Homo sapiens: one gene and its partner. The protein of the gene in region 1 purifies or fractionates together with the protein of each later gene. This does not show direct contact. Each region holds a gene or a part of one and is shown in the gene's direction. Other genes may lie near its edges.

Region 1 (3,834 bases):
CTGTCAAGGCTAGGAAGAAACTGCATCAACTAACAAGCAAAATAACCAGCTAACATCATAATCACAGAACCAAATTCACACATAACAATATTAACTTTAAATGTAAATGGGCTAAATGCTCCAATTAAAATACACAGACTGGCAAATTGGATAAAGAGTCAAGACCCAACAGTGTGCTGTATTCAGGAAACCCATCTCATGTGCAGAGACACACATAGGCTCAAAATAAAGGGATGGAGGAAGATCTACCAAGCAAATCGAAAACAAAAAAAGGCAGGGGTTGCAATCCTAGTCTCTGATAAAACAGACTTTAAACCAGCAAAGATCTAAAGAGACAAAGAAGGCCATTAAATAATGGTAAAGGGATCAATTCAACAAGAAGACCTAACTATCCTAAATATATATGCACCCAATGCAGGAGCACCCAGATTCATAAAGCAAGTCCTTAGTGACCTACAAAGAGACTTAGACTCCCACGCAATAATAATGGGAGACTTTAACACCCCACTGTCAACATTAGACAGATCAACGAGACAGAAGGTTAACAAGGATACCCAGGAATTGAACTCAGCTCTGCACCAAGCAGACCTAATAGACATCTACAGAACTCTCCACCCCAAATCAACGGAATATACATTTTTTTCAGCACCACACCACACCTATTGCAAAATTGATCACATAGTTGGAAGTAAAGCACTCCTCAGCAAATGTAAAAGAACAGAAATTATAACAAACTGTCTCTCAGACCACAGTGCAATGAAACTAGAACTCAGGACTAAAAAACTCACTCAAAACCACTCAACTACATGGAAACTGAACAACCTGCTCCTGAATGACTACTGGGTACATAACGAAACGAAAGCAGAAATAAAGATGTTCTTTGAAACCAATGGGAACAAAGACACAACATACCAGAATCTCTGGAACACATTTAAAGCAGTGTGTAGAGGGAAATTTATAGCACTAAATGCCCACAAGAGAAAGCAGGAAAGATCCAAAATTGACACCCTAACATCACAATTAAAAGAACTAGAAAAGCAAGAGCAAACACATTCAAAAGCTAGAAGAAGGCAAGAAATAACTAAAATCAGAGCAGAACTGAAGGAAATTAAGTCACAAAAAACCCTTCAAAAAATTAATGAATCCAGGAGCTGGTTTTTTGAAAGGATCAACAAAATTGATAAACTGCTAGCAAGACTAATAAAGAAGAAAAGAGAAGAATCAAATAGATGCAGTAAAAATGATAAAGGGGATATCACCACCGATCCCACAGAAATACAAACTACCATCAGAGAATACTATAAACACCTCTACACAAATAAACTAGAAAATCTAGAAGAAACGGATAAATTCCTCAACACATACACCCTCCCAAGACTAAACCAGGAAGAAGCTGAATCTCTGAATAGACCAATAACAGGCTCTGAAATTGTGGCAATAATCAATAGCTTACCAACCAAAAAGAGTCCAGGACCAGATGGATTCACAGCCGAATTCTACCAGAGGTACAAAGAGGAGCTGGTACCATTCCTTCTGAAACTATTCCAATCAATAGAAAAAGAAGGAATCTTCCCTAACTCATTTTATGAGGCCAGCATCATCCTGATACCAAAGCCTGGCAGAGACACAACAAAAAAGAATTTTAGACCAATATCCTTGATGAACATTGATGCAAAAATCCTCAATAAAATACTGGCAAACTGAATCCAGCAGCTCATCAAAAAGCTTATCTGCCATGATCAAGTGGGCTTCATCCCTGGGATGCAAGGCTGGTTCAACATACACAAATCAATAAATGTAATCCAGCATATAAACAGAACCAATGACAAAAACCACATGATTATCTCAATAGATGCAGAAAAGGCCTTTGACAGAATTCAACAACACTTCATGCTAAAAACTCTCAATAAATTAGGTATCGATGGGATGTATCTGAAAATAATAAGAGCTACCTATGACAAACCCACAGCCAATATCATACTGAATGGGCAAAAACTGGAAGCATTCCCTTTGAAAACTGGCACAAGATAGGGATGCCCTCTCTCACCACTCCTATTCAACAGAGTGTTGGATATTCTGGCCAGGGCAATTAGGCAGGAGAAGGAAATAAAGGGTATTCGATTAGGAAAAGAGGAAGTCAAATTGTCCCTGTTTGCAGACGACATGATTGTATATCTAGAAAACCCCATTGTCTCAGCCCAAAATCTCCTTAAGCTGATGAGCAACTTCAGCAAAGTCTCAGGATACAAAATCAATGTACAAAAATCACAAGCAGTCTTATACACCAACAACAGACAAACAGAGAGCCAAATCATGAGTGAACTCCCATTCACAATTGCTTCAAAGAGAATAAAATACCTAGGAATCCAACTTACAAGGGATGTGAAGGACCTCTTCAAGGAGAAATACAAACCACTGCTCAATGAAATAAAAGAGGATACAAAGAAATGGAAGAACATTCCATGCTCATGGGTAGGAAGAATCAATATCGTGAAAATGGCCATACTGCCCAAGGTAATTTATAGATTAAATGCCATCCGCATCAAGTGACCAATGACTTTCTTCACAGAATTGGAAAAAACTATTTTAAAGTTCATATGGAACCAAAAAAGAGCCCGCATCACCAAGTCAATCCTAAGCCAAAAGAACAAAGCTGGAGGCATCACGCTACCTGACTTCAAACTATACTACAAGGCTACAGTAACCAAAACAGCATGGTACTGGTACCAAAAGGGAGATATAGATCAATGGAACAGGACAGAGCCCTCAGAAATAATGCCGCATGTCTACAACCATCTGATCTTTGACAAACCTGACAAAAACAAGAAATGGGGAAAGGATTCCCTATTTAATAAATGGTGCTGGGAAAACTGGCTAGCCATATGTAGAAAGCTGAAACTGGATCCCTTCCTTACACCTTATACAAAAATCAATTCAAGATGGACTAAAGAAACTACCATCAGAGTGAACAGGCAACCAAGAAAATGGGAAAAAATTTTCACAACCTACTCATCTGACAAAGGGCTAATATCCAGAATCTACAATGAACTCAAACAAGTTTATAAGAAAAAAACAAACAACCCCATCAAAAAGTGGGCAAAGGATATGAACAGACACTTCTCAAAAGAAGACATTTATGCAGCCAAAAAATACATGAAAAAATTCTCATCATCGCTGGCCATCAGAGAAATGCAAATCAAAACCACAATGGGATACCATCTCACACCAGTTAGAATGGCGATCATTAAAAAGTCAGGAAACAACAGGTGCTGGAGAGGATGTGGAGAAATAGGAACACTTTTACACTGTTGGTGGGACTGTAAACTAGTTCAACCATTGTGGAAGTCACTGTGGCGATTCCTCAGGAATCTAGAACTGGAAGTACCATTTGACCCAACCATCCCATTACTGGGTATATACCCAAAGGATTATAAATCATGCTGCTATAAAGACACATGCACACGTATGTTTATTGCGGCACTATTCACAATAGCAAAGTCTTGGAACCAAGCCAAATGTCCAACAACGATAGACTGGATTAAGAAAATGTGGCACATATACACCATGGAATATTATGCAGCCATAAAAAATGAAGAGTTCATGTCCTTTGTAGGGACATGGATTAAACTGGAAACCATCATTCTCAGCAAACTATCACAAGGAGAAAAAACCAAACACCGCATGTTCTCACTCATAGGTGGGAATTGAACAATCAGAACAGATGGACACAGGAAGGGGAACATCACACTCCAGGGACTGTTGTGGGGTGGGGGTAGTGGGGAGGGATAGCATTACGAGATATACCTAATGCTAAATGACGAGTTAATGGGTGCT
Region 2 (3,834 bases), on another chromosome or scaffold:
GAGGCGATGGAAGCTATGTTTGGACAAGACCTGACCAGTGACAATGATATTCTGGGAATGTGGATCCCAGAGGTACTGGATTGGCCTACCTGGGTGTGTGTGACTGCAGCGGGGGCTGCTCTGACTTATTTTCCTGCCCTCCTGTTCATATAGCTTACTAACAGCAGCCTTGCCTAGAGTTGAAACACTCTAAAAAGTCTTTTATCTCATCCTGAGGTTTGGGGATTTAAAGTTATGAGGTTACTTTGATACCTACAAACTAATAAGGAAAAGTCTCTCTTGCTTTCTCTGTGGGATTTTATTGTTTCTCTCCCCAGACAAGATGAATAGAGTCATACTGTGGTAATATTTGATTCTGATGTCAAAGATAAATTACAAAACAAGCATCAGGTTCCAGTAGACGTTGACAGGTTATATAACATGGCTGCTGTGCTCACATTGCTATCTGAATGCATGTTCTTCTCCTTCATAGGTTCCATTTAATCAATGTAATGCCTTATTCTAGGAACCAGTGCTCACCTAGATCTTGTAAATACCTCCATTTAGGGGCAAGGTACATGGTGGATTTGTATATACATTGGTTAGCATTACATTTTTGTAGTAGGGAGACCAAAAAGCTCATAGATGTAAGTCCTACAGGAAAGAGAATCTGCTATATAAATAAGTGAATCATAATGATTTTTCCCAAAAATTCATAAAGTAGGTATGCATTTTGTGACCAGATGAAAATTAGTTCTTTTCACTAGTGGAGTTTTTTTTTTAAAAAGCCTCATTTTGAGATAGGACAGATTGTCATGTTCATTAACTCTTCTCAGTAGGATACTCAGTTACTTGTATTATTGATATAACTTATTAGAGTGAGAGAGGGCAAAGAACACCTTCCGATTGTGTTATCTGAATTCTGATTTGAAAGAAATTTTTTATTTAGCATTAATGAACATGTTGGAAATATTCTAGCATATGTAATAAAGTAATTTAATATAAATAATCTACTTGGTACTTCTTGGTTTTATGTTAAATTGACTAATCATTTGGTATGAAATCCTTTTGTGCAGCATGTTTGTGAGTCTGAAGACAGGGAAGAAGTGGTGGTGTGTGAACTGTGTGAATGCAGCGTCGTCAGCTTCAATCAGCACATGAAGAGAAACCATCCAGGCTGTGGGCGCAGTGCAAACCGCCAGGGCTATCGCAGCAATGGTTCCTATGTGGATGGCTGGTTTGGCGGTGAATGTGGGAGTGGAAATCCGTACTACCTGTTATGTGGCACCTGCAGGGAGAAGTACTTAGCCATGAAGACCAAATCTAAGTCAACAAGTTCTGAAAGGTACCTTGAAATTGTGTAGATATCCAGACCTCCTGAAGATACCTCATACCTTAAGTCTTGGGAACTGTAGATTTTTCACGTGAGGAGTTACATTTAACCTTCCCTGAAATCCCGTGATTCTTACACTTTGGGCAGAAGGGATGGAGGGGTTTCAGAAATTCATGTTCCCAGGAATAATGGCATAGCAACATATCCTTCCCTGGAGTTTGACTGTGTTAACCTCTGACTTGTTGGCAAGTAATGGTCAGGACCCTTGCCTTAACCCTCAGGAGGCTTCTACTCAATTCTTTTCATTTGTATTTTCTACCATATTTCTGGCATTTTAATTAAGATCTTTTTCCTGATGAAAAAAACAGACTTTTGATTAAACGAGTTCCATAAAAATATTATCTCTTTACATCCTTAATCCCTAGAGAGTAGGTTTGTTGCCCTTAATTGTCAACTATTAAAATCTTTAAGGCTTTATGGAATAGAATTTGGTTAAAAGAGTTGTTTTAGGTAACCCAGAAATCTCCCCAGTAGTTTGGTAAAATAATCATTGATTTTGTAAGCATGTGTGTACCTACATACCAGCAGTTTTTATTATGTTAGCCTATAACATGAAACATACTTTTTTATTTTGTGCTGCTTTATTAATGACCTCTTAAAATGTTCTAATGACTTAATTTGCATCTTGGGGTACTAACTGTTTTATATAAAAATGCAATGTTCTTCATGTTTGGTGCAGGTACAAGGGACAAGCTCCAGATCTAATTGGCAAGCAAGACAGTGTGTATGAAGGTAGTTTGTTTTGAGAGCTTCTTTATTTTACATGTTTTTTTATATATCCTCTCTGCTTAACATCTGTTACTAAAATTCACCTTCGTGTGTGTGTGTGTTTGTATTTGTGTACATGTTAACTTAAATTTTCCCTTAAAAACTCAAGGGAATTTAATAGCAACAACGCTGGTTTAAAAGTCAAAGGAAAAGAACGTGGTTTCAAAGACCAACTTTACCACAGAATATTAATTTCTATTAGGTGTATTTTTTTTTCAAAGTAGGGAAAGGATGTGGTATATTTTGAATTTCCACCCTAATTGTGGAAAGTAAAAAATAAATAGAGATGAGCATTGATTTTTCTGGAGCACTCATTTTCTTGAAATAACTCATTCCCTAATGATTACAGACAGCTAAGAACTCTTTGTTGGACCCATGACAATATTTTTAATTAGTTTAAACCTCTATTACCAGCTGTAGCATTTGCTATTGCTGTCAACTTATTTAACTACATTGACTCCCTTTCCCTGAGAGTCTCACTTATGCTTCAGGAGTGCAGTTTGGTTAAGTTTTCAGGAGATGGTGCCATAGTTCATTATGTGGTCACTGGACTTTCAGTCCATCTGCATTTTATGTATGTATGTATTTATTTATTTATTTATTGTTTTTATTTCTTTGAGATGGAGTCTCACTCTGTTGTCCAGGCTGTAGTGCTGTGGCGTGATCTCAGCTTACTGCAGCCACGGCCTCCCAGGTTCAAGCAATTCTCCGGTCTCAGCCTCCTGAGTAGCTGGGATTACAGGCACACACCACCATGCCTGGCTAATTTTTGTATTTTTTGGTGGGGATGGGGTTTCATCATGTTGGCCAGGCTGGTCTCAAATTCCTGACCTCATGTGATCCAGTCGCCTCGGCCTCCCAGAGTGTTGGGATTACAGGCGTGAGCCATCGCATCTGGCTGCTCATCTGCATTTTAGATGTATTTTCAGAACAACCATTGCCAGCAGATTTATGTAATATTTAAATTCACATACTATACATTTATTTATTTAAATTCCAGAAGACTGGGACATGTTGGATGTTGATGAAGATGAAAAGCTAACTGGTGAAGAAGAATTTGAATTACTTGCTGGACCGCTTGGTTTAAATGACCGGCGCATTGTACCAGAACCAGTTCAGTTCCCTGACAGCGATCCACTGGGAGCATCAGTAGCAATGGTCACAGCCACCAACAGTATGGAAGAGACTCTGATGCAAATAGGTAAACTGAAATCCTGATTTGCATTGATTTTATAGCATCTACTATAATTTGTTTCTTAGATAGGTAAATAATAATAATAAAGTAAAAGTAAATAAGACTAATGGTTCAACATTATCTCACCCCAACAAGTCTCTTTAGCCAGTTGTTTTAACATTTTGAAGGTATAATGTGGTATTAAGTTTTGGCTGGGCTTGGTGGCTTATGCTCGTAATCCCAGCACTTTGGAAGGCTGAAGAAAGAAGGTCGCTTGAGGCCAGCAGTTCAAGACCAGGCTGGGCAACATGGTGAGACCCATTTCTATTAAAAAAATGAAGAAAAGTAGCTGGGTGGGTGGTGTGCACCTTTAGTCCCAGCTACTCAGGAGGCTGAGGCAGAAAAATTGTTTAATCCCAGGAGTTTGAGGTTATGGTGAGTGATGATTGAGCCACTGCACTCCAGCCTGGGTGACAGAACCAGACCCTGTCTCAAGAGGAAAAAATAAATGTTTTGATTT

What was found.
Region 2: the proteins of FMO5 (region 1) and HERC1 purify together in Homo sapiens (affinity purification with mass spectrometry; 2 studies listed by BioGRID and IntAct, with this or other methods). This does not show direct contact.

Annotation. Positions count from the first base shown.
Region 1 is NC_000001.11:147,190,775-147,194,608, reverse strand, and holds part of FMO5 (flavin-containing monooxygenase 5), read left to right. Parts: intron 1-3,834. UniProt on the Homo sapiens protein: Acts as a Baeyer-Villiger monooxygenase on a broad range of substrates. Catalyzes the insertion of an oxygen atom into a carbon-carbon bond adjacent to a carbonyl, which converts ketones to esters.
Region 2 is NC_000015.10:63,659,243-63,663,076, reverse strand, and holds part of HERC1 (probable E3 ubiquitin-protein ligase HERC1), read left to right. Parts: coding exon 1-93; intron 94-1,055; coding exon 1,056-1,324; intron 1,325-2,051; coding exon 2,052-2,104; intron 2,105-3,140; coding exon 3,141-3,341; intron 3,342-3,834. UniProt on the Homo sapiens protein: Involved in membrane trafficking via some guanine nucleotide exchange factor (GEF) activity and its ability to bind clathrin. Acts as a GEF for Arf and Rab, by exchanging bound GDP for free GTP.